5 separate regions of the Homo sapiens genome follow, and all the other regions are linked to region 5. Evidence: fine-mapped expression QTL. A gene starts in region 5. Each other region holds a variant in brackets. All regions are shown on one strand. Distances are from middle to middle. Region 1 overlaps CARS2 (cysteinyl-tRNA synthetase 2, mitochondrial). Region 2 overlaps CARS2 (cysteinyl-tRNA synthetase 2, mitochondrial). Region 3 has its middle 22 kb from the start of ING1. Region 4 overlaps CARS2 (cysteinyl-tRNA synthetase 2, mitochondrial). Region 5 holds the start of CARS2 (cysteinyl-tRNA synthetase 2, mitochondrial).

Evidence for each region. PIP is the estimated chance that this variant, and not a neighbour inherited with it, causes the effect.
Region 1: its variant is the best candidate, but not a certain one, in a credible set for the expression of CARS2 in whole blood (INTERVAL, PIP 0.84).
Region 2: its variant is the best candidate, but not a certain one, in a credible set for the expression of CARS2 in blood mononuclear cells (TOPMed, PIP 0.84).
Region 3: its variant is the best candidate, but not a certain one, in a credible set for the expression of CARS2 in skeletal muscle (FUSION, PIP 0.82).
Region 4: its variant is the best candidate, but not a certain one, in a credible set for the expression of CARS2 in whole blood (TOPMed, PIP 0.60).

Annotation. Positions count from the first base shown.
Region 1 is chr13:110,683,081-110,688,185 of GRCh38, reverse strand. CARS2 (cysteinyl-tRNA synthetase 2, mitochondrial) reads left to right here. Exons shown (of 15, transcript NM_024537.4): 4 at 168-239; 5 at 360-465; 6 at 5,052-5,105. Among named protein-coding and RNA genes, the nearest start is that of CARS2, 20 kb to the left of the region's middle. The variant A/C (reference allele first, on the strand shown) is at 2,639.
Region 2 is chr13:110,655,568-110,660,672 of GRCh38, reverse strand. All of the region lies in intron 9 of CARS2 (cysteinyl-tRNA synthetase 2, mitochondrial), which reads left to right. Among named protein-coding and RNA genes, the nearest start is that of NAXD-AS1, 42 kb to the right of the region's middle. RefSeq lists an enhancer at 2,056-2,165. The variant G/C (reference allele first, on the strand shown) is at 2,934.
Region 3 is chr13:110,732,685-110,737,789 of GRCh38, reverse strand. No RefSeq gene overlaps it. Among named protein-coding and RNA genes, the nearest start is that of ING1, 22 kb to the right of the region's middle. The variant ACACACT/T (reference allele first, on the strand shown) is at 2,443.
Region 4 is chr13:110,645,599-110,650,703 of GRCh38, reverse strand. CARS2 (cysteinyl-tRNA synthetase 2, mitochondrial) reads left to right here. Exons shown (of 15, transcript NM_024537.4): 11 at 3,465-3,603; 12 at 4,614-4,737. Among named protein-coding and RNA genes, the nearest start is that of NAXD-AS1, 32 kb to the right of the region's middle. RefSeq lists an enhancer at 1,117-1,616. The variant C/T (reference allele first, on the strand shown) is at 2,108.
Region 5 is chr13:110,703,468-110,708,572 of GRCh38, reverse strand. CARS2 (cysteinyl-tRNA synthetase 2, mitochondrial) reads left to right here and starts at 2,457. Exons shown (of 15, transcript NM_024537.4): 1 at 2,457-2,703; 2 at 3,002-3,052. The coding sequence starts at 2,480. RefSeq lists enhancers at 1,530-1,649, 1,660-2,039 and a silencer at 2,090-2,649.

The DNA of each region.
Region 1 (5,105 bases), 20 kb after region 5:
TGAGTGCCCCCGCTTTGGTGAGTGGGTGGGGGCAAACTGAGGCCGAGGCACCGGAGGTGGCCGGGGTATGTTTGCTGTCGTGTTGTGCACGTGGGCTTTCTTGTGGCTGGGTGGTTCTGTTGCGAATGCCCCAGACTCATTAACGTGCACATCTAATCCTTCTGCAGATGAATATTTCCCCCGCTTCCCTCGCCAGTCTTTATGAGGAAGACTTCAAGCAGGACATGGCAGCCCTGAAGGTAAAGTGTGGGGCTGGTTGTTCCTGCCATGAGGGTGACAGGCGTGAGCAATGACAGCTGGTGCTGGCTGACCTGTGCTTCTCACGAGGGAAACACGGTCACGTCTCCACTTCCTTGCAGGTTCTCCCACCCACGGTGTACCTGAGGGTAACCGAAAATATTCCTCAGATAATTTCTTTCATTGAAGGAATCATTGCTCGTGGGAACGCTTATTCAACGGCAAAAGGTAGGGTTTATGTTCTTTTTTTTTTTTTCTTTTTTTTTTTTTGAGACAGAGTTTTACTCTGTCACCCAGGCTGGAGTGCAGTGGTGCTATCTCAGCTCACTGCAACCTCTGCCTCCCTGGTTCAAGCGATTCTCCCGTCTCAGCCTCCTGAATAGCTGGGACTACAAGGTGCGTGCCACCATGCCCGGCTACATTTTTTTTGTTTTGGTATTTTTAGTAGAGATAAGGTTTCACCATGTTGGCCAAGCTGGTCTCAAACTCCTGACCTTGTGATCCACCTGCCTCAGCCTCCCAAAGTGCTGGGATTACAGGCGTGAGCCACTGTGCCCAGCCGGTTTATGTTCTTAAAACTAAAACATTACTGGGATTTGGAGAAACTGGATGTATTTATCAGCTGTAGGAACATACTAAAATTTACTTCTGTCTTGCTAGGATTCCAACAGCAAAGCTGTTGTGGGGTTTTCTACAATATTGTGTCTCTTTGCGAAATGGTTGAATTAGTTCTAAATATCTTTTCCAGGGAGAGGGGAACGTCTGGACAGCTAGTCTTGGTAACAGTCGTGGAATCTAGGTGGTAGGTGTACAGGTGTTCATTGTGGTGTTATTTCATCTTTGTTTAGGTATTTTCCTAACAAAAAGTTGGGGACAAACACAGTACCTCCAGAGACCTGCTCTCTTCTTATTAAAAGTCAGCCCAGGTCACCCCCGTCTGTTTGGCTATCGTTTTTTCACAGGCCATTACGAGTGAGTTGCGGGAGTCAGAGGTTGCAGTGAGCCGAGATCACACCATTGCACTCCAGCCTGGTGACAGAGCAAGACTCCGTCCACCCACCCTCCCCTGCACAAAAAACAAAAAGTTGCAGGGCCAGGCATGGTGGCTGATGCCTGTAATCCCAGTACTTTGGGAGGTGGAAGCGGGTGGATCACTTGAGGCCAAGAATTTGAGACCAGCCTGGGTAACATGTTAAAACCTTCTTTCTACTAAGATGACAAAAAATCAGCCAGGCCTGGTATCGCGCGCCTGTGGTCCCAGCTATTCTGGAGGCTGAGGCATGAGAATTGCTTGCACCCAGGAGGCATAGTTTGCAGTGAGCCGAGATCACACCATTGTACTCCAGCCTGGGTGACATTGCCAGACTGTCTCAAAAAATAAAAATAAAAAAGTGAGTTGCAGGGCTGGGCGTGGTGGCTGATACCTATAATCCCAGCACTTTGGGAGGCAGAGGCAGGTGGATCACTTGAGTCCAGGAGTTCAGGACCAGCCTGGGCAACATGGAGAGACCCCTTCTCTACAAAAATAAAATATAAAAATTAGCTAGGCATGGTGGCGTGCTCCTGTAGTCTCAGCTACTCAGGAGGCCGAGGTGAGAGGATAGATTGAGCCCAGGAAATTCGAGGCTGCAGTGAACCATGATTGTCCCACTGCACACCAGCCTGGGAGACAGAGCGAGACCTTGTCTCAAAAAAAAAAAAAAAAAGCGTGAGTTGCAGATGTTCTGTCGCATCAGCCATGACACTTCAACATGCATCTCTGCATAAAAGGAGTCCAGATGTCATGGTCAGACCTCAGACAATGAAGAATTTCTGGCTAGCTTCGCGTGTCCTCTCTGTATTAAATATACTCACTTGTCCCCAGGGCATGTGCTGCGTGTGCATTTGTTGGTTTAGTCTCCTCACTTTTTCCCCTCCTCTTTCTTTTTTTCTTTTTTTCTCTTTTTTTTTTTTTTTCATTTTTTCTGGGTAAGCACATGTAGATTCAAGACTCTGACAGGTCAGTTTTCCTGTGGAGCAGTCTGTGTTTAGATTTGCATGTTGCTTACTGCAGGTGGTTTCATTGGTTTGCGGATGCTAATCTTTGTCTGGTGGACCCCAGGCAAGGCTGGCGTCTTGCTGTTTTGCTGCTTTGGTGATGAAGCATCGCCATAAATCCGAACTAAATCCCACCCATCCTGGCTGCAAACCCTGACCACAGCCTCATCTCTCCATGAAGTTCTCCTTCACCCAGCACAGTTGAAAGTGAACTTACTTTCTCAGCCTTGATATCTCTGCTGTACCATTTGGCAGCCAGTTCTGCACTGCCATAGTTTGCTGTTTAATGTATTCATATTTTGTCCCCATCTAGATCATAAATTCTCAGACCATAAAAACCTTTTGCTTTACTGAATGACGCCTT[A/C]AAGTATCCAGCCGACGGCTGAAGATACGTAGGTATTGAATGTTTGTTGCAATGAGTCAGAAAGCATGAAGCACTGCCCTGGACGTTCCTGTCCTTCCTGGGTCCTACTTGGAGCGTAAGATGAGCACGTGAGGCCCTGAGGATCTGCTCAGTAGGCTCTGTGTATGGAAGTAGCTTTTTACTTGTTCTAATGTGGTATATTTAGATTTTGTTTCAAAGAAAAACTTTTTTTTTTTTTGAGACAGAGTCTTGCTCTGTCGCCTAGGCTGGAGTGCAGTGGCACAATCTTGGCTCACAGCAACCTCCGCCTCCCGGGTTCAAGCAATTCTCCTGCCTCAGCCTCCCAGGAAAAACTTTTTTTAAAGGACTTAGGTGGTTGAATTAGAGTTTGCACCAGAAAACACAGGAATTAATTTTTTGCTGTCGTGTAACTTGAAATAAGATATGTGGGCCTGTGCTTCCATTTTAGGAATAAAGTGATAAATGTTCACGAGTCTTTAGGGATTCTCGTCTTCACAGGCTTGAGGATTGAATGCTGTTTGTTGTTTTGTTACTGTGTTTTATTATAAACAATTTAATGATAGTATAAATATAATTAATTCAAAATACACTTACATTCAATCAAACCCCAGTAATTTGGACTTTGTTACAATTCCACAAGGGCTTGGTTGTAATTTGATCTTTGAACTCTTGGTGAAAAACAATTTCTTCAGCAAATTGATAACATAAAGCAAAGTGAAGGGGGAATGTTTCCACCATTTAAGGGAGTGGTTTCTCTCCAGTGAAGCGCTTTTAAAGCACTGTTTATATTCTGACTTCATAGAAAGCAGCTCCCAGGGCCTGGATGTCCCCCTCCTGTCCTCTGGTTCATCCCCAGCACCGAGTGCCAGCTTAATGGTCAACCCTGAATGACCAGAGAGGACGCTGCAGGGACAGGGCAGGGTTTTCTGAGCACAATGGTCACTGGTGGGAGGAAAGGCCAGTGTGGCTTGGGCAAACAAAGCCGGGTGACATTTCAACAGAAAACCCTGCCCTGTCCCTTCAGCGTCCTCCCTGGTCATTCGGGGTTGACCACTAAGCTGGCACTCGGTGCTGGGGATGAACCAGAGGACAGGAGGGGGACATCCAGGCTGAGGACATGAGGCAGGTCCTGGGTGCAGCTTGTGTTTGCCAGTTGCAAAGTTTCCTTGATCTTACCAACACCAGTGTCCGCAGTAAGGACAGTACTGATGCAAATCAGTAACTGCATTAGTAAAAAAGAATGTGAAGACTCAAACTTTGTAAAGGCTAAAAGTTGCACCCACGCCTGGGGCCTGAGGACAGCTACATGCTGCTGTGTGGTTGGAGGGTGCTGGATGGTGGCTGCGGATCTGTGGTACTGAGAATGGCCATGGTCACAGCCCGGATGAGCATTGCCTCCTTCCTAGGGAGACACATGGCCTGGAACACACAGCGGCTGCAGCCGGGCAGCCTTGGAGCATAGGTTGGTAGTGCTTTCTTCTTGACAAAGCTCCCACTCTGAGTGCCTCCTCCCCAGCTCTGCTTTCTTAGGCTTTGTGGTGGAAGGGGCAAGGGCAGCCCAGGCTTGCAGGAGGCTCTGGAGAAGGTTCTGACCTCAGACTGCAAAGCGGACCTTGGCACTCAGCCTCACAGACACTTCAATATGCAGATGATTTTTTTGTGTGTTTTTTTTGGTAGAGATGGGGTCTCACTATGTTGCCCAGGCTGGTCTCGAACTCTTCAGCTCAAACAATCCTCCTGCCTCGGACTCCCAAAGTGCTGGGATTGGAGGCGTGAGCCACTGCACCCAGCCAGATGATGTTTTCAATCTGAGTAAAAAGGTAGTTTTAGAAGATGACTGGGCAAAGAAAGAGTGTCTTTGCTAGCTGGTGTGTAACATAAAGTAAAGAAAGAGTGTCTTTGTTAGCTGTTGTGTAACACAAGGCACAAGATCTAAATGAAGGTCAGTGATAACACTTTTCTTTTTTCTGATTAAATAATTGTCTCAGTAGTTTACAGAGAACTTACATTTGTGTTTTCACTTTCACGTCTGTGTACTCATGATATGTCCAAATCATGCATTTATCTTATAGTATTGTTTTTAATTCTGGTTAACAAATATATTAAGCCAGGCATGGTGTCACTCCTATAGCCCCACCTACTGGGAAGGTTGAGGTGGGAAGACTGCCTGAGCCAAGGAGTTCAAGGCTATCGTGAGCTGTGATTGTACCACTGCACTCCAGCCTGAGCAACAGCAAGACCCTGTCTATAAAAATATAAATACTATATATGTATATGGGGCCAAATGCTATGTTCTGTATTTAAATTCTAATTACTTGTTAGATGTTAAGGTTGTCAATATGCTGATATTCAGACTGAGAAGTGATGAATTCATAATTGTCTTTATAAACAGGCAATGTCTACTTCGATCTGAAGTCTAGAGGAGACAAGTATGGCAAATTGGTCG
Region 2 (5,105 bases), 48 kb after region 5:
TATTTTAAGCCCACTGTTGAGACCTACTGCTCAGAAAAAAGGATTCCTTTCCAAATATTGACAGTGCACCTGGTCATCCAGGAGCTTTGATGGAGACATACAATGAGAGTAATATTGTTTTTATGCTGCTAACAGAACATTCTGCAGCCCATTGATCAAGGAATAATTTCAACTTTTAAGTCTTATTATTTAAGAAAAATATTTCATAAGGCTATAGCTGCCATAGATAGTGATTCCTCTGATGGAGCTGGGCAAAGTAAATTGGAAACCTTCTGGAAAGGATTCACCATTCTAGATGCCAGTAAGAACATGTATGATTGATGGGAATAGGTCAAAATATTAACATTAACAGGAGTTTGAAAGAAGTTAAGTCCAACTCTCATGGTTGACTTTGAGGGGTTCAGGACATCATTGGAGGAAGTCACTGCATATATGGTGGGAATAGCAAGAGAACTATTGGAATTGGAAATGGATCCTGGAGATGTGACTGAACTGCTGCAACCTCATGATAAAAGTTGAACAAACGAGGAGTTGCTTCTTATGGATGAGCAAAGAAAGTGGTTTCTTGAGATGGAATCTACTCCTGGTGAAGATGCTGTGGACATTGTTGAAATGACAACAAAGGATTTAGACTATTGCATAAATTTAGTTGATAAAGCAATGGCAGGGTTTGAGAGGATTGGCTCCAATTTTGAAAGACATTCTGCCGTGGGTAAAATGCTATCAAACATTGGATGCTACAGAGAAATCTTTCATGAAAGGAAGAGTCAATTGATGGCACAGACTTCATTATTGTCTTGTTTTAAGAAATTGCCACAGTAACTCAGCCTTCATCAACCACTACCTTGATCAGTCAGCAGCCATAATATTGAATCAAAACCTTCCACCAGCAAAAAGATGACTCACTGAAGGCTCATATGATTATCATTTTTGTTAGCAATAAAATATTTTTTCATTAAGGTACGTACATTGTTCTTTCAGACATAATGCTATTATATACTTAATAGACTGCAGTATAATAGTGTAAACATAACTTTTATATGCACTGGGAAACCAGAAAATATGTGTGCCTTGCTTTATTGTGATATTCGCTTTATTGTGGTGGTCTGGAACCAACCCTTCAGTATGTCTGAGGTCTGCCTGTGAACCATGCTAGGCCAAACAAAAAAAAAAAAGGAGATCTGGGCTTGAGGAGGGGCAGGCAAGTTTTGGGAGGGTGACTAGGAAAAGTGATAAACAAGGATTGTTGAGTAAAATTTGTTTTGCAGATTGAGCCTCTCTATTGAGAGTTGTTAGGGAGTCCTCACCCTGCTACAGCAGGATACATCTTTTACAACTGGGAGCTTTGTTTACAAGGAAAACTTGCACCCTGTTTTTAGAGCATTTCCTGCATCTGCTTGTTCTCAGTGGTCTTTAGCTCAAAATAATCTGTATGCCAGGGAGGCATATTCAGGGCTGGCAGGCTGTGGTACCCTTCAGGGGCTTTATCTGTGTTTATGGGAGTGGTGAGCGTGTGTGTGCATGTGCACATTTGTGTGAGCATGTATGCACATGGACACCTGTATATAATGCTTGTTATTGACCATTAGGAAATACATTGAAGACATCATCACACTTCTCTATTCTGTAACCAACTCCTAAAAATAAGGATGCTTTCCTACATAATCCAAACACCTAAAAAGTTAGCAGTAATTTCTTAATATTATCTAGTCTGTAGTCTGTTTTTCTTTTTTTGTTTGTTTGTTTTTTTGTTAGTCTCACTATCACCCAGGCTGGAGTACAGTGGCGTGATCTCAGCTCACTGCAACCTCCACCTCCCAGGTTCAAATGATTCTCCTGCCTCAGCCTACCGAGTAGCTGGGATTATAGGTGCACACCACCATGCCTGGCTAATTTTTGTTTTGTTTTGTTTAGTAGAGACAGGGTTTCACCATGTTGGCCAGGCTGGTCTGGAACTCCTGACCTCAGGTGATCCACCTGCCTCAGCCTCCCAAAGTGCTGGGATCACAGGCATGAGTCACTGCGCCTGGCCTGTTTTCTCCAGTTATCCCCAAAATGTGTTTTATACTTTTATTTTTAAACGAGGAGTTGATCAAGGTTCATATGTTGCATTTGTATGTTGTGTCTTTTTAGGGTTTTTTTTAATGTGGTTAAAAAAACCACGTAACATAAAAGTTATCATCTTAACCATACAGTTCAGTAGTGTTAATATGTTCACATTGTTATGCAACAGATCTCTAGAATTTTTTCATCTTGTAAAACCAAAACTGTGGACTCACTGAACAACTTCCCATTTCCCCTTTCCCCAGGCCTTGGCAACAACCCTTCTACTTTCTGTTTCTATGATTTTGGCTGCTCTAGATCTCGTGTAAGTGGACTCACATAGTAATTGTCCTTTTGTGACTGGCTTATTTCACTTAGCATGGTGTTCTCAAGATTCACCTGTGCTCCTTTATTCCATGTCAAAATTTCCTTCCTTTAGGCTGAATTATATTTCATTGTTCTTTCTAGGTTTCTAATCTAATCTACAGCAGTCTTTCTACTTTTATTTTTCCTGTGGTGTTGACTTTTTGAAGAGATTGAGCCACTTGTCTTGTTGAACATCCCACATTTTGGATTTGTCTGTTTCATTGTGTTGTCATTTAGCTTGTTCTTCTATCTCCTGTAGTTCGTTTCACGGGAAGTGAGGGTTAAAGGGTCAGTTTGATCCAGGTAGAAGCTTTTTGGCAGGAATACCTTGTAGTTGATGCTGTGAACTCACAGTGCATTCCCTGGGGGCTGCAAGGTCAGGTTGTCCTACGATTCATGATGGTGAGTTTTACCATTTGTTAAGGAATGACTACCAGATCCCTCTACTGCAGAGTTTATTTTCTTCTTATGAATATTAAGCATCTGAGAGGTGGCATGCTGCATGGTAATTTGTTTCCTAATAA[G/C]CTTCCACCCTATGGTTTTAGAGGCTTCACTTTGATCAGGTATTTCATTGGTTATTGCAAAGTCATGGTTGTCTAATTGTTCCCTCTTTTACATTTATTAGTTGGCATTCTTCTTAAAGAAAAGTGTTTTTGTCTTTCTTTTTTTAGTAGACAGAGTCAGTGATTTATATTTATTTAGTGTATTGTCAATTCAGTCATTATCTTTTGGGTGTTGAAATCATCCCGGATTTAGCCAGGGAGGGCTCTTCTGACTGGCTCCGGTCCCCCAGGGACAGACCCCTCGGCCTCTGTTGTGCCCTCCTGCACCTGCCTGCCTTTTGCTTTCCTACCCAGACCTGCCGTTTCTCCAAGCAGCCACCCTGCCTTTGAGGGGAAATGGGATTTTGAAGGCAAGATTTGGGCACTGCGATGTTGATTGCTACCAGAGTGACACTGCGTCTACGCTTTTTCAGGGGTCAGAGCTAGGGGAGAGGGAGATAAACCTGCACATACAAAATAGATTCCTTATTTGGGTTAATTTTGATATATCCAAATAAAATTTAATATCACAGGGCTTTTTAGTTTTAGCTCTTTATTTTCCTCTCTTACTAAACATAAGAGCATATCAACTTTTTGTTTTATCTTAAAATACACACAAAATAAATTTAAAAACTTAATACCAATATTACCATTAACAGTAAAACTATTGAGTAAAACTTAAGGCTTCTCTTATTTCTTTTTAAACTAATAGCTTTATTGAAATGTAATGCACATACTATATAAGTATACTATTTAAATGGTACTGCTTAGTGGTTTGTAAGATATTCGCAGTTGTGAAACGACCACTATCTAAGAACGTTTTTTTTTTTTTCTTTTTGAGACAGAGTCTCACTCTGTCGCCCAGGCTGGAGTGCAGTGGCACAATCTTGGCTCACTGCAAGCTCCGCCTTCCGGGTTCACGCCATTCTCCTGCCTCAGCCTCCTGAGTAGCTGGGACTACAGGCGCCCACCACCACGCCTGGCTAATTTTTTGTATTTTTAGTAGAGACGGGGTTTCACCATGTTAGCCAGGATGGTCTTGATCTCCTGACCTTGTGATCCACCTGCCTCGGCCTCCCAAAGTGCTGGGCTTACAGGCGTGAGCCACCACGCCCGGCCTCTAAGAACGTTTTTATCACCCCAAAAAGAAACGCCACATCCATGGGCCATCACTTCTCACTCCCACCTCCTCCCAGCCCCGACAGCCGCTCATCTACTTTCTGTTTCTGTGATTCACCTATTCTGGACTGAAATTTCTTTTTCTCGTGGACTGCACCCCACTAAAGCTCTGTGGTCTGAACATACACTCGCGGCATGTAATGATCTCCTTTCATTAACACAAGAGGTTCATTTGTTCTGTTTGTTTCCAGTGTGGTGGTCTCTCTCTTCCCCTTTTCAATTTACTTTTTGTTTTGTCTTTTTTGAGAGTCTTGCTCTGTCACCCAGGCTGTAGTGCATTAGTGTGATCTCAACTCACTGCAACCTCTGCCTCCCAGGTTCAAGTGATTCTCATGCCTCAGCCTCCCAGGTAGCTGGGATTACAGGCCTACACCACCACACCCAGCTAATTTTTGTATTTTTAGTGGAGATGGGGTTTCACCATGTTGGCCAGGCTGGTCTTGAACTCCTAACCTCAGGTCCACCTGCCTCGGCCTCCCAAAGTGCTGGGATTACAGGCGTGAGCCACTGCATCCAGTCCCAATTTACTTTTATTTGTCATATCTGTGAAACATTTGCAGGGTTCAGCATTAACACTAAAGAGAGCATGGAGAAGGCTGGCCTGGAGCCCGCCTGCACCCATTCCTTCCCCAGCAGCCACAGTTGTGTTCTCTGTTTTGGATTCATCTTCCTGTGTTCCGTTACACACGATAGGCCAATACACATAAACCTTTCTCCTCTGTCTCATTCATGAGGCAGTGTCGTATGCATGCCGCCTCTTCCCTAACAATTTAAGTGAGGTTTTAATTTGATTATAGACATGATGGGTTTAATTTCAGAAAGTTTGAAAACTGCAGACAAGACAGAGAACCACACGGTAGAAAAATTCAAAGGTACTAAGTCTGGAAAGCAGGCCTCCTGCCCGACCACGTTCACTGTTGCCCGGCTTCTCTCCTGAAGCAGCGGTTAGTTTTCTCGGAGCAGGTGTGTGTGTGC
Region 3 (5,105 bases), 29 kb before region 5:
TTACAATCATAGCAGAAGGAGAAGGGGAACCAAGCATGTATTACATGGTGGAGCAGGAGAGAGAGTGAGCAATGGGGGAAGTACCCCACATTTTCAAACAACCTGATCTTGTGAGAACTCACTATCATGAGAAGAGTAAGGGGGAAGTCTGCCCCCATGATTCAATCACCTCCCACCAGGCCCCTTCCCAAACACATGGGGATTACAATTGGAGAAGAGATTTGGGTGGGGACACAGAGCCAAAGTATATCCACCATATACATATAGCATATACATATATACACATATATACACACCATATACCATAAATATACACAGACGCATATACGTACATACATGTATAAAATGTGGGTATATATGTACATATACATATATGTATATGCATATAGCACATATATACACATAGAGTAATATATATGTACATGTATATACATAGGACACACACAAAAGTGAAAACTTGTAGAAATAAAAGAAACTAACAAATCCACAACCATATAAATTACATGAATACACTTTTCTTAGAAATTGACAGATTAAATAATTGTGGCTACACAATGTCTAAATAATAGGAGATTGACCACATGCAAGAATATCAGAGGGACAAAAAGATTTCTAAAAAGCAGAAATCAGGCCAGGTGTGGTGACTTATGCCTGTAATCCCAGCACTGTGGGACGCTGAGGTGGGCAGATCATGGTCAAGAGCTCGAGACCATCCTGGCCAACATGGTGAAACCCCATCTCTACTAAAAATACAAAAATTAGCTGGGCGTGGTGGCACGCGCCTGTAGTCCCAGCTACACTGGAGGCTGAGGTAGAAGAATCACTTGAACCCGGGAGGCAGAGGTTGCAGTGAGCTGAGATTGTGCCACTGCACTCCAGCCTGGTGACAGAGTGAGACTCCATCTCAAAAAAAAAAAAAAAAAAAAAGCAGAAATCATGAGGACCAGAGAATGCCTGGCCACAGCATCATAAAATCAGTGATAAAATTAATAGGATAGCTGAAGGAGAGTATTATACCTATGAAAAATTTAAAATGTGCTTCTAAGTAACTACTCACAGAAAATATAAAATTAAAAATACAGTCTATTAGAAATGAATGACATTATAAATATGCAGGATGCAAACAAAGGAGTATTTGGATGAAATTTTACGGTGTTAAATTCATGTATTGGAAAACCAGAAAGACTGAAAATACAAGAGGCTTTTAACTCAAGAAGCTATGAGAAAAAAAACTGAAAGAAATGTAAAAATCAGGCTGATAATATAATAAATCAATAAAAGAAAAATAATAACAGGCCGGGCATAGTGGCTCATGCCTGTAATCCCAGCACTGTGGAGGCCAAGGCAGGTGGATTACCTCAGGTCAGGAGTTCGAGACCAGCCTGGCCAACATGGTGAAACCCCATCTCTACTAAAAACACAAAAATTAGCCAGGGGTGGTGGTGTGTGCCTGTAATCTCAGCTGCTTGGGAGGCTGAGGCAGGAGAATTGCTTAAGCCTGGAAGGAAGAGGCTGCAGTGAGCCAAGATATCACCATCACACTCCAGCCTGGGCAACAGAGCAAGATTCCATCTCAAATAAAAAAAATAAAAAAAAGAATAGATTTAATCAATAAAACCAAATACTGGTTTATTGTAAAGATCAATTAAATGGACTAGTATGTGACAAGCCAATTTAAGAAATAAGAGAGAAGATACAATCGATAATATTAGAAATGAGAAAGGTGATACAACCAGAGTCATCAAGGTGATGAAAAAGTAAGTGCTATGTTCAACAGTATGCCAATGCATTTTAAGACCTAGATGAAATAGAACATTTTCATGGAAAATATAATATGGGATAAAGAAAATAGAAAGTGATAACACTGAGTCAAGAAGAGATAGAGGCCAGGCACAGTGGCTCATGCCTGTAATCCCAGCACTTTGGGAGGCTGAGGCGGGCAGATCATCTGAGGCCAGGAGTTCAAGACCAGCCTGGTCAACATGGTGAAACTGTGTCTCTACTAAAAATACAAACATTAGCCAGGCGCAGTGGCATACCCCTGTAATCCCACCTACAGGGGAGGCTGAGGCAGGAGAATCGTTTGAACCCAGGTGGTGGAGGTTGCAGTGAGCCGAGATCGTGCCACTGCACGCCAGCCTGGGCGACAGAGCAAGACTCTGTCTCAACAACAACAACAAAAAAAAGAGATAGAGACCCTGAAGAGAAGAAATTGAAAAGGTAGTCAAAGACTTACTGCAAAGATTATTGTTTGCCTATTATTTCTAACAAATATTCAAGGGACAAATAATTCCTTGAAGAGGAATTTGCCCTCGAAGGATAAATAAATGCTTCCAGGGCATTAAAAAAAAAAAAAAAAGGTAAACCTCCTAAATTCATTCCATAAGGTTAATATACTCCACACACACACACACACACACACACACACACACACACACACAC[ACACACT/T]ACAAGAATAGCTTTTTTAAAAGCCCCATCTCAGAGACACAAACTTACTAATAGAATATTATCAAATCAGGCCTGTCATACCAGCACTTTGGGAGGCCCAGGGAGCCGGATCACTTGAGGTCAGGAGCTCGAGACCAGCCTGGCCAACATGGCGAAACCTTGTCTCTACTAAAAATACAAAAATTAGCCGGGTGTGGTGGCGGGTGACTATAATCCCAGTTACTCGGGAGGCTGAGGCAGGAGAATCACTTGAACCCGGCAGGTGGAGGTTGCAGTGAGTCAAGATTGTGTCACTACACTCCAGTCTGGGTGACAGAGCAAGACTCTGTCTCAAAAAATTATCAAATCAAATACAGTGGTGACTAAAAGAATAATCCATCACAGCCAGGAAGAGTCCATCCCAATAATGCCAAGATTTTTCGAAATTCATTTATTATTATTATTGTTTTTTAAGCTACATATGCTGGAATGGGATCAAAATTTACTGAATTGAAAAAAAAAAGGCCAGTATGGTGTCTCACATCTATAATCCCAACTGCTCAGGAGGCTGAGGCAGGAGGATTGCTTAAGTCCAGGAGTTCAAGGCTGCCGTGAGCTTTGATCGTAGCACTGCACTCCAGCCTGGGTGACACAATGAGACCGTGTCCCTAAAATAAATAAATAAATGGAGAAGATCCACACGTAGCTCACATAGCTATCCTCAGCCTCAACCCCAAAAAAGTATTTGACAGAATTCAGCATTAACTTCTGGCAATACTCTAAAAATACCAAAAATCATAAAAGAAACTTGCCTGTACCTGACAAAACAATATTTTTTGGAAATACCTGGCACATCAGAATAATGGTGACATATTCAAAGCATTTCCATTTGAATCAGAACAAGACTCTGATGCCTGCTATTGCCAACTGTACTTAACCTTTCATTGAAGTCCCAGCTCATTCAGTAAGAGGGAATTAAAGGACGAAAGGAAAGGAAGCAGAGATGCCCACTATCAGTCACGGGCATGGCACTGGCAATGTTGTACTGACAGTCCTCTACCTAGAAAGTCTACGAGAGTCAACTGACAAACTTCTAGAACAAATGAGAAATATCAGCAAGGTGGCCAGATCTGAGATCAACCTACAAACATTAACTTGTTATTACATGTAAATAGGAACCAATGGAGCAAAGTCATGGAAAAAAGATCCATGTGTGGTAGCAACTAAAACACAACACACCAGAAAGAAATGTGAAGAAAACTGTAAAATATAACTGAAGGCTATCATAGATAGCGTGAATAAATGGAAATACTTCATATTCTGCATGAGAAGATTCATGTTCCAAACGTATAGGTGTTCTCCAAGTTAATCTATAATCATTAACGGAAGTGATATGGTTAGGATCTGTGTCCCTGCCCAAATCGCAGGTCAAATTGTAATCTCCCTTGTTGGAGGAGGGGCCTGGTGGGAAGTGACTATGTCATGGGGGTGGATTTCCCCCCTTGCTGTTCTTGTGATAGTGAGTTCTCACAAGATCTGGTTGTTTAAAAGTGTGTAGCACCTCCCCCTTCACTCTCTTTCTCCTTCTCCGGCCATGAAGGACATACCTGCTTCCCCTTTGCCTTTCACCATGATTGTAAGTTTCCCGAGGCCTCCCCAGCCATGCTTCCTGTACAGCCTGCAGAACCATAGGCCAATTAAACCTCTTTTCACAAATTACCCAGTCTCGTGCAGTTCTTTATAGCAATGCAAAAATGAACTATACAGGAAGCAAACAGAGCGCTTGCCTTATTAAATATTAAAAAGTACTATAAAGCTAGTGAAATGAAAACAGTGAAGATTTTTCACTGACATAAATGAATAAATCAGTGGAAACTAACTGAGACACCCACGTGTCTATGAAAATTTAATATATCATAGAGCTGACATTTCATGAATGAGAAGGTAATGGAGTATTCAATACTGGCTTGAGACAATGACCATCTATTTGAGGAAATACTTAGAGGGGTTAATACACATCATTAAGTTATGGCCACTTTTACATATATTATCTGATATGGTTTGGCTCTGTGTCCCCACCCAAATCTCATCTCGAATTGTAATCCCCACATGTCAAGGGAGGGACCTGGGTGAGTCATGGGGGTGGATTTTCCCCATGCTGTTCTTGTTACAGTGAGTTCGTTCTGACAAGCTCTGATGGTTTAAAAGTGCGGCACTTACCCTTTGCTCTCTCTCTCTTCTTCCACCATTAAGACGTGCCTTGCTTCCCCTTCACCTTCCGCCATGATTGTAAGTTTCCTGAGGCCTCCCCGGCCATGCCGAACTGTGAGTCAACTAAATGTCTTTTCTTCATGAATTACCCAGTCTCAGGCAGTTCTTTATAGCAGTGTGAAAATGGACTAATACATTATCTCATTTGAACGTCGTATGAATTAACACTCTGAGGGGTAGGCATCATTACTCATTTTATAAATGAGGAACGAAGGGTCAAGGAAATGAAGAAATTCCACCCAGATCACACAGCTGGTACGTGCCAGAGACTGAAACCAGGTCCTCTGGCTTCAGGGCCAGCACTCTTTCCCTATACCACATGGCATCCCTCACATTCTTCCATTTTGTCAAAGAATTTCAGTGACTCCCCACCCTAAAAACCAAAATAAATTCCAGATGGATAAAAG
Region 4 (5,105 bases), 58 kb after region 5:
CCCTGAACATGGGAGCCCTCAAACGTGACCCTGCCTGTCCTGCCCAGGGGCAGCACTTCCCCGAACGGTGTGTAGCAGAGCAAGGTCTCCTGGATGGGTGATGACGGTTCCTCCCATGCTGCACAGTTACCTGCTGCCCCGGGCTAGGCTCTTGGCCAGGAGTTGTCTAGCACTGGCCTGGCATGGTGGCTCACGTGTATGATCCCAGCACTTTGGGAGGCCGAGGCTGGCAGATGTTTTGAGTCCAGGAGTTTGAGACCCGCCTGGGCAACATAGTGAGATCTTATCTCTACAAAAAATACAAAAGGCCTGGCACGATGGCTCACACCTGTAATCTCAACACTTTGGGAGGCTGAGGCAGGTGGATCACTTGAGGTCAGGAGTTCGAGACCAGTTTGGCCAACGTGGTAAAACCCCATCTCTCCTAAAAATACAAAAATTAGCCAGGCATGGCGATGTGTGCCTGTAATCCCAGCTACTCAGGAGGGTGAAGCAGGAGAATTGCTTGAACCTGGGAGGCAGAGGCTGCAGTGAGCCATGATCATGCCACTGCTCTCTAGCCTGGGTGGCTGAGCAAGACTCCATCTGAAAAAAATACAAAAAAATTGGCTTGGTGGCATGCACCTGTAATCTCAGCTACTCAGGAGGCTGAGGCAGGAGAATCACTTCAACCCAGGAGGCGGAGGTGCAGTGAGCTGAGATCGCACCACTGCACTCCAGCCTGGGTAACAGAGCAAGACCCTGTCTCAAAAAAAAAAAAAAAAAAAAAAAAGTCGTTATCCAGAGCTGCATCCCTGGTGGCAAGTGAGGGCTGGGGACAGTGATACTGCCCTGCCTGGCTTGACCACCTAACTGGCAATAAGGTCCCAGTGTATGGCTAGTGCTGCAGGAGCAGGGCCAGTGTCCTCTGGAGATGGTGACAGTTCCTTCCTGGTGAGCGAGGGTTGCTGTCCTTCTGGCCTCTGGTGTCCCCTCTGCTCCATTGACACTGCCGAGGCCCTGGGTCGCTGCTGTTGTCATGCCACCTCCCTCTCCCCCTTCTTGTCCCTCCTACGTAGCTCTCTTGCTCCAAATTGATGATTTCACCTTTTTAATGAAGACGATGGGAGTGGGGACATGCAGCCGAAACATAGTTTATTCTCATTCCCCCATGGGGTGAATCTATCTGGCCAGCACACTTTATGTCACACACAAAGCTTTGGTGGGTTTGGGTGAGCCCCTGGGCTGGTCCCCTATCCATCTCCCTCCCCTGTGCTGTGCCTGCAGAATTTCACCCGGCCTGCAGCTCCTGTCAGCGTGAGAGGGGCACACAGACACCTGCACCTTTGACCACCGAAAGGCTACCTTGGGCCATGTCTTTATCCTGGCTCTGACGCCACGTCGTTGGCTTTCTACTGCAAACTCAGGTTTTCTGAGACGTGGTCTGAACCTCTCCCCTGGGTGGAACTGCAGTGCATCGGCCCAGGGGACCTGCGCTCACGGGCGCACGAGCTTGAGAAAGAAGTGTGGCCAGCCTCGTGCTCGCCTGGCCTCGTGCAGCATCTGTGTGTGGTGTGCACTTACGCGTGATGAAAGCAGCCCAGCCGTGCCGTGAGAGGAAGAGTCGGGGAGGCGAATGGGCTGGAGAAACTGTTTCCGCCTGGCTCCGTGTTGCTGGAAACGGGCAGAGGCGGCGGAGATGAATCCCGTGTGCGAGCGCAGAGCTCTCTTCCCGGCTCGTGCTTGCTCCCCTCGTGGCTGGGGGCTGTGGTCCTTTCAAAGCTGTTCCCTGCGGATCCCTTCCCAGGGGCACTTTGCCCTCGGAAGCCCCGCCTCCCTTCTCGCAGATTGTGGCAGGATTAGGGGCAGCATCTTGTATGACTGTCCTAATTGTGTGCAGTTCTTTTTGAGCTTTGAATACGAAGTTTGGTCTGAAAAGAGGCTTTCTCAAGCCTGGGCAGCTCTTTCAGGAACACATTCCCAGTGGGAATTTTGGGTGGGATTCAGGAGGCACCGATCTGCCAGTGAGGGATTTCTAGGAACACAAGGTTAGTCAGGACGTGGATCCCCACAGTGGACACGACTGCCCCACCCCGCCGAGGTCGGAGGTGGCCTTGAGGAGCTGGGC[C/T]GTCGCTTGCTGTCTGAGCTTCCATCCACGAATGGTGTGGGAGTTCGGGATCTTCCCAGACATTCTTTCTTCACCTTTGGGAAGATGGAGGGGGACGGTGGTGGCATCCCTTGCAGTCTGTGCTGCGCTGACACTTTGGAGAAGTGTCTCCCATCTGTAGAGCAGAATCCTCTTTGGAGAAATGCAGCTGTCCTTGACCTTGAGGCAGAAGGCGTCTCCATCCTGGGCATCTGTCTGCCCCTCCCCATCTGGATGCCTCATCTTGCTGTGTCATTAATGGTAATCTTATTCTAACAGCCTCCCATGCATCAACTCTATCAGTCCCCGAATATTATCTTTAAATTTTGTCAGATCGCTTTGTGGGTTTCTGGCTTTTTCTCTTTTCTATCAAGCTATTCAAAGCAAAAACTGAAAGTGAATTTAGAAAAAAAGGAAAAATGTTAAGTAAGATATTAGACAGCCCTGGGGGAGGTTTTCACTGTGTTGCTTCCAGCTTGAAGCCATGTCTGATTTTGGAATTCTCGTTTTGAAGTCAGGACTTGGAGGCATGTTGAGATGTAATTTTCAGCATATGTGTCCAGATAGGCTCTTTTTATTCTTGTGGTTTTCAAAGAGCTGTTTAAAGCAGCACTCCTCAAAAGCATGGACTGTGGACTCAGACAGCCTGGGAAACAGAGTAGGCACGAGAAGGTTCTAGAAATATGTGGCTGGCTTTGCTGATATCCAAGGATATGTGATCATTGCAAAGCGATTCACTCCTGTTGTCTTACCCATCAGAATGCAGTAGACTAGAAACCACAAGAAATGAACAGATGTAAACAGAAACACTGGCCCCTCATCCAGGTGGCCTAAGAAACACCCACAGACTCTAAAGCCAGGTCTGGGGACTGCTCCTCCCTCCCTCTTTGGGCTGTCCCATCACACACAGGCACTTTCCCTCGGGAGGGCCTTCCCTAGAGGTGCCTCTGACCCCAGGGCGGGGCTCCCTCTTTCCAGAGCTAGCCATTCATCCGCACCTCCATCCATCCAGGGCGGGGCTCCTTCTTTCCAGAGCCAGCCATTCATCCGCACCTCCATCCAGTCAGTGGAAATGCACCTCTTGGCTGGAAGCACTGGGAGCATGTCTCCACCGCCACCTTGTTCTCCCACGGCAGGTGCCACTGAGCTGGGACAGACCCTGTGGTCTGTGTCCAGTGGGCCTAGGGACTCGCGGTCACTGGAGGGCGTGAGAGCCACATGTCCCGCTCTCCGTGTGGTCCCTGGGTGGCAGTGCCCTCAGAAAACACTGATTCTGCTGGACCAGGGCAGGGGCACAGCATGGTGGGCACCGCCTCAGTGACCATCTCTTCCTCCTCAGCCATCGACTACAGTGACAGCGCCATGCTCCAAGCTCAGCAGCTGCTCCTGGGGCTGGGCTCTTTCCTGGAGGACGCACGTGCCTACATGAAGGGGCAGCTGGCCTGCGGCTCCGTCAGGGAAGCGATGCTGTGGGAGAGGTAAGAGGCCCGCCTAGCACCCGGCGTGGCACCCCTCCTGTGGCCTGCTGGGTGCTGCTGGTGGGCTCTTGAAGGGGAAGAGGGGCCCCCAGGAGACAGGGCGCTGGACAGGAGGTTTGGGGTCAGGGACTGCCCAGAGAGGCCCCAGGAGACAGGGTGCTGGGCAGGAGGTGCAGGTGTGGGGTCAGGGGCTCCCCAGAGGCCACAGGGGACTGGGAGCTGGACAGGAGGTGTGGGGTCAGGGGCTCCCCAGAGGCCACAGGACACTGGGTGCTGGACAGGAGGTGTGGGGTCAGGGGCTCCCGAGACATCCCAGGGAGACGGCGCTGGCAGGAAGTGTGCCTGGGGCCCTCGGGCTCTGAGCCCCCTGCTCAGAGTGGCTTTGGGCTCGGGTTCCCTGTGCGAGGAGCGGAGCTGCTCATCCCTCCCAGTCCTGACTGTGAGGAGCCAAAATCTATAAAACACACAGGCCTGGGCCCACAGCATCGCCTCCACTCCCCACCCACGGGTGTCCTGGGCAGCGCTGCACATTCATCCCGGCATGCAGAGTCTTCCGGATGGTCTTGGTGATAACCCACCCCTGCCACTTCAGCAGGGTAGGCAGCCAGTGGCCACGGGAGGCTGAGATCCGGGAGCCCCGGGCTGGGCCTCCCCAGCCTCTCTTTGTGAGTGGTCAGCCGTGCCGTCTCTCCCCCACCGAGTCTTCCTTGCCACTCCCCTCAATATCTATTGATTTTTAAAACCATCATGAAAATGCCCACGTGTGTCTTGTATTTTAAGTGTCACAGGTGACCTCTGCTCTGGGACTTTTTCTTGGGGTAACATGACAGTTTGCAGTTGATGTTACATAATTTTCTGCTACTCAGGAACTCAAGTCTTTGGGAATATGACCTAGAGAAAGTCCCCAGATTAGAGCCCCCAGCGTCTCTCCCTGGGGAAGGACTGGTGTGGGGGCCGCCTGGGGAGAGTGGAGCTCCCTCTGCTGTGACTGTTCTCTCCTCTTCCCTCAGGCTCTCCAGCACCAAGAGGGCCGTGAAGGCGGCCTTGGCAGATGATTTTGACACACCCAGGGTGGTTGATGCCATCCTGGGCCTTGCACACCACGGGAATGGACAGCTCAGGGCGTCCCTGAAGGTAGCTCAACGAACAGGTGGCCTTGCGGTCCTGCTGCCAGGGGCATGGGTCGGGTCCTCTGGTGGGTTTTTCTCATGTCGGCTGGGTGGCATCTCTGCTGATTTCGCCTCCCGCAGCTTCTGTGGAGGAACTCATGGAGCCCGAGTCTGCCGCTGACACACGGGATGGCACCCAGCCTGGGGCTTGACCCTCCCGGGCCTCAGGGCCACCTGGGGAACAAGCTCTCAGGAGCCCCTGAGGCTGAGAAATTCTGTGTGCTTGATCCTCAGGGGACACATCTCATGTCCCCACTGCATTCATGGCCCTTTCACAGAGAGAGCTTTTGTGGGGAACTTTTTAAGGAAAGACCCATTTACCCCAAGGCACTG
Region 5 (5,105 bases):
AAACATAATAGAATCACTGCCAGTGAGGGGCTAAAAACATTACATGAATTTTCTGAAGACAGAAGATACTATTGTTAATTTAAAAGTTGTGATGTTCTATGAACAATTCAAATATACCGCATGTCCAGATTCATGTGCAGATTTGATCTTCAGTGTTACTAAGCTGCTTTCAGAATCTCTGCTCCAGTTATTTCCTTGAATTCGTGTGTTCTCACAGATTGCAACTGAGCTTTTTGTTAATTTGCTTTATTTACTGGCACATCTAATATCTGAATCAGCTTTATCAGGTATTTTACTACCCAGATTTCTTCCCACCTGCACAATTAATCCCTTTCGTAAGGGATTAATTCATCAACATTCAACAAGCCCTTTTATTTCTTCTAAATTTTTTTTTTCCAGCCACAGCAAAACAAAACAAACAAAACCCAAGTCCTTTTCTGAATTTAGTGCAGGGCACAGTGAGAAGTTCAAAATAATGTACAATTTAAGATACTCAGGGAGATAAATATACACACAGCACTGGAAAGTTACAAAATAACATAAGGCAGGCAAGAAGTGATAATATTCAGGAGAATTTAGAGTAGTTAGGTAACATGAGTGGTTAGCATTGATGTAGGCTATAGGGTCTCCTAATTCTAACATTTTAACCTTATTAAATTAGACAATAGATTACATTAGACTACAGTTAGCTTGAAACAGAATTGCAGAGTTGGACTCCAGGATATTGAGAAACTACTCTAGGTACACACTTGTTTGTCTCTACTTAAACCTTTGCTTTTTAATAAAACACCAAAGCAAACTAAAAACAACAACAAAAAACCAGAGGAACGTCTCCTGTTTTGAGAACTGGAAAAGCAAAGGGGACTTTTTCTTTTTTTTGAGACATCGTATTGCAAGACACCAATAGAGGCACTTTTTTTTTTTTTCAGGCGGAGTCTCCCTCTGTTGCCCAGGCTGCAGTGCAGTGGTGTGACCTCAGCTCACTGTGAGCTCTGCCTCCTGGGTTCAAGCGATTCTCTTGTCTCAGCCTCCCCAGTAGCTGGGACTACAGATGCACGCCACCACGCCCGGCTAATTTGTGTATTTTTAGTAGAGACGGGGTTTCACCATATTGGTCAGGCTGGTCTCGAACTCCTGACCTCAGGTGATCCATCCGCCTCAGCCTCCCAAAGTGCTGGGATTACAGGTGTGAGCCACTGCGCCTGGCCCAATAGAGGCACGTTTGTCAAGCTATTGTGAGTAACTTTCAGAATGTTTTTGTTCTCAAGATACGGGATCATGGTGGGGGAGGCATGCTGTGTATTGGAGTGCAGACATGGTGTGTGTTGGGTTGCACACTGTGTATTGGGGTGCACACTGTATTGGGGTGTAGATGTGTGGGGGCGCACACTCTATTGAGGTGCACATTGCATTGGAATGCAGACAGTGTTTGCTGGGATGCACATGTGCTGTGTTGGGGTGCACACTGTACTGGGGTGCAGACATGGTGTGTGTTAGAGTGCACAGTGTATTAGGGGTGCACACTGTATTGGGGTGTACACTGTACTGGGGTGCAGACATGGTGTGTGCTGGGGTGCACACTGTATTGGAGTGCACACTGTATTGGGATGCTGATGTGGTGTGTGCTAGGGTGCATACTGTGTATTGGGGTGCAGACTGTATGCTGGGTTGCACACTGTGTATCGGGGTGCACTGTGTTGGGATGCTGATGGTGTGCTGCAGTGCACACTATTGGGGTGCAGATGTGTGTGCTGGGGTGCACACTGTATTGGGGTGCACACTGTATTGGGATGCTGATGTGTGTGCTGGGGTGCATACTGTGTATTGGGGTGCACACTTCTTGGGGTGCAGACTGTGTGTTGGGTTGCACATTGTGTATCGGGGTGCACTGTGTTGGGATGCTAACGGTGTGCTGCAGTGCACACTGTATTGGGGCGCAGATGTGTGTTTGGGGTGCACACTGTATTGGGGTGCACACTGTATTGGGGTGCTGACGTGTGTTCTGGGGTGGACACTGTGTATTAGCGTGCTGACGTGGGCTGTGCTGGGATGCACACGTGCTTCGCTAACAGGCCAGGGCCCGGCAACAGAAGCTTGCACTGTAAACGCTCCTCCCGCGCGGCGGACACAGCTCCAGGCTGGTACCGCGCGCACACGGACGCCTCGCAGGACCTGGGCTAATAAGGAGAGGAGATCGGCACGGTACCGCCTCTTCCCACGGCCTCCCGGCGCGGCACCGCCCTCCTCCCTCCACCCCGGGCCTTCCCCGCCCCAACCTCTTCGGGCCCTGGTTCTCCACCCTTGCCGCGGGCGACTCGAGCCAGGCCAAAGGGAGGCGCTACCTGAGGACTGCTTCCGGGAGTGGGCGTGGCCCCAAGGGCGTGGGCGGGGCGGGGCGGGGCCGTGCTGCTCTTGAGCGACCGGCAGCGTACCCGGCGTGGCTCCCGTCTCCGCCCAGTCGTAGGCGCTGGCCGCTGACATGTTGAGGACTACGCGCGGCCCAGGCCTGGGCCCCCCGCTGCTCCAGGCCGCGCTGGGCCTTGGGCGGGCTGGGTGGCACTGGCCTGCGGGCCGGGCGGCGAGCGGGGGGCGCGGGCGGGCCTGGCTGCAGCCCACGGGCCGGGAGACGGGTGTGCAGGTGTACAACAGCCTCACCGGGAGGAAGGAACCCCTAATCGTGGCGCACGCCGAAGCCGCCTCCTGGTGGGCCGCGCGGGACTGGGGCACGGGCGGGGGCCGATCGTGGCGGAGACTTCCCACGGCTGAACGGGATCTGGGCTCGGGGAGGGCGTTTAGGAAGCTGCATGGAGGGCGCCGTTCTAGAAGCTGGGGGTGCGCGGTGCTTTTGCAGGTTTGGGTGTGAATTGAGCAAGTATGAAAACCCCGGCTATTCATCCCCCAGAAGTGATTACTTTAAAAATTATATGATCATTATAACTCAGAATCGAATGTCCTTTCTTGCAAATATGTTCCACACGATGGATTTTAACTTTGTTTCCAGGTATAGCTGTGGACCAACTGTATATGATCATGCGCACCTTGGCCATGCTTGGTGAGTTTCCTGGATTTGAATTTTCATACTTCAAAGGACCATTTATTTTTGAAAGCCTTTTGCTGATTTCTTTTATCTCTTAAGTGGCAACTTAGGGATGCAGAATAATTCCTACATTCCAGGCATTGTGGGAAATGTTACAACCTCATTTGGTTCTTATAGGGATTCTGAGCACTTACACCCGTTTTACAGGTGAGGAAACTCAGGGAGACAATGGAGCACTGAAAAATGACCCGTTTTGGAACTAGATGTTTTTTGCTGGGTTTAGTGACATCAAGAGGCCTTTGCGGGGTCCCGGGGTCCTGCTGATCAGTCATTCCTGGGCCCCACCACTTCTTAGCTTCACAGCACTGAGCAGGTCACTTTATTGCTTTGAGTCCTGGTTTCTTCATCTTTGAGATGGGAATGATAACTTGGATCTTATAACAATTTTAGTAAATAATGCCCATAAAATGCTGCTTAACACTGTACCTCACATGTGAGATGTCACGGGGCTCAATAGTGATTGAGTAACTTTCCTAAGATGACACATTGAAGAGGTATTGGAACTGGGGTGAGGCTTGGTTTCTCTGACTGCGAAGTGGTTGCTCTCTTGACCTCTTTAACTGTAAGATGTACTGCCTCCTACATTTGCCAAAATTACCACTTTTCCTAATATTTTGTACATTTCCAAAATATAATGTACAAAAATGACATATTATAGATTTTTTAAAACTTAGTATTGTTCAGTCCTAGACTAAAAGTAAAAAGTTACATTTACTCTGTATACTTTTTTTTTTTCTTGAGACGGAGTCGCTCTGTCGCCCAGGCTGGAGTGCAGTGGTGCAATCTCGGCTCACTGCAACCTCTGCCTCCCAGGTCCAGTTGCCGCCTCCTGGCAGCAATTCTCCTGCCTCAGCCTCCGGAGTAGCTGGGATTACAGGCATGTACCACCACGCCCGGCTAATTTTTGTATTTTTAGTAGAGACGGAGTTTCACCATGTCAGCCAGGCTGGTCTCGAACTCCTGACCTCAAATGATCCACCTGCCTTGGCCTCCCAAAGTGTTGGGATTACAGGCATGAACCACCATGCCCGGCATACTCTGTATACTTTAAATATACATTTTTCCCCTTTACTTTGGGCTAACATACTTTTAATTATCAAAAGCATATTTCGACATCTTTCTTGAATTATAAAATATGTTGGGGAAATATTAAAAACAAAACCCCCACCCTGGAAAACCTTTCCACAAAGGTAGAAGAGAAAGAAAACAGTTCTGTTACTGAATAAGCCTTAAACCAGAAGGGGATGAGCTAAAATAACTGCAAAGACAGAAAGAAATCTCATCCTTCTATGGAGCTTTGGGGATACAGCCTGTCTCAGTCTATGAGTCTGCTGTAACAAAATATCCTAAAATGGATGACTTATAAACAACAGAAATTTCTTTCTTTCTGGGGCTAGGAAGTCCAAGATGAAGGCACCAGCAAATTTGGTGTCTGTTGAGGGTCTGCCTGCTGTGTCCTCACATGGTAGAAGGTAGAGGGAATTCTCTGAGGTCTCTTCTATGAGGGCATTAACCCCAGTCATGAGCTCTCTGCCTCCATGACTTTGTCACTCCCAGAGGCTCCACCTCCTAAAACCGTCACCTTGGGAGTTAGGGTTTCAACCATGAATTTGGAGGGAAGACAAACATTCAGACCATAGCATAACCCATTGCTTCAGGTGAGTTACAGTGTGGAGTCAGATGACAAGGTAGGCCCATCTCCTCCCAGGACACTGGGAAACGGGGCGTTATTTTCCTTGATTACATTTCAGAGGTGGGTCCCAGGTTTTGAAATTTTCTTGAGTTGTAAAACTGCCAAGAGGTTTATTTAGCCATTTAAAAGATTGACATGCATTTGAAGAGGACTGAGGAAGAAATCCTAAAAGTTGTTGGGGAGAGAATCTCTTCTCATTTCCAACTAGGAGAGTCAAGTCTTGCAGTTTAAATTTGTATAATATTTACCTTTATGACTACAGAAAAGAATACACATCTTAAGTGCGCAGCTGAATGCATGTTATAAGCTGTGTCC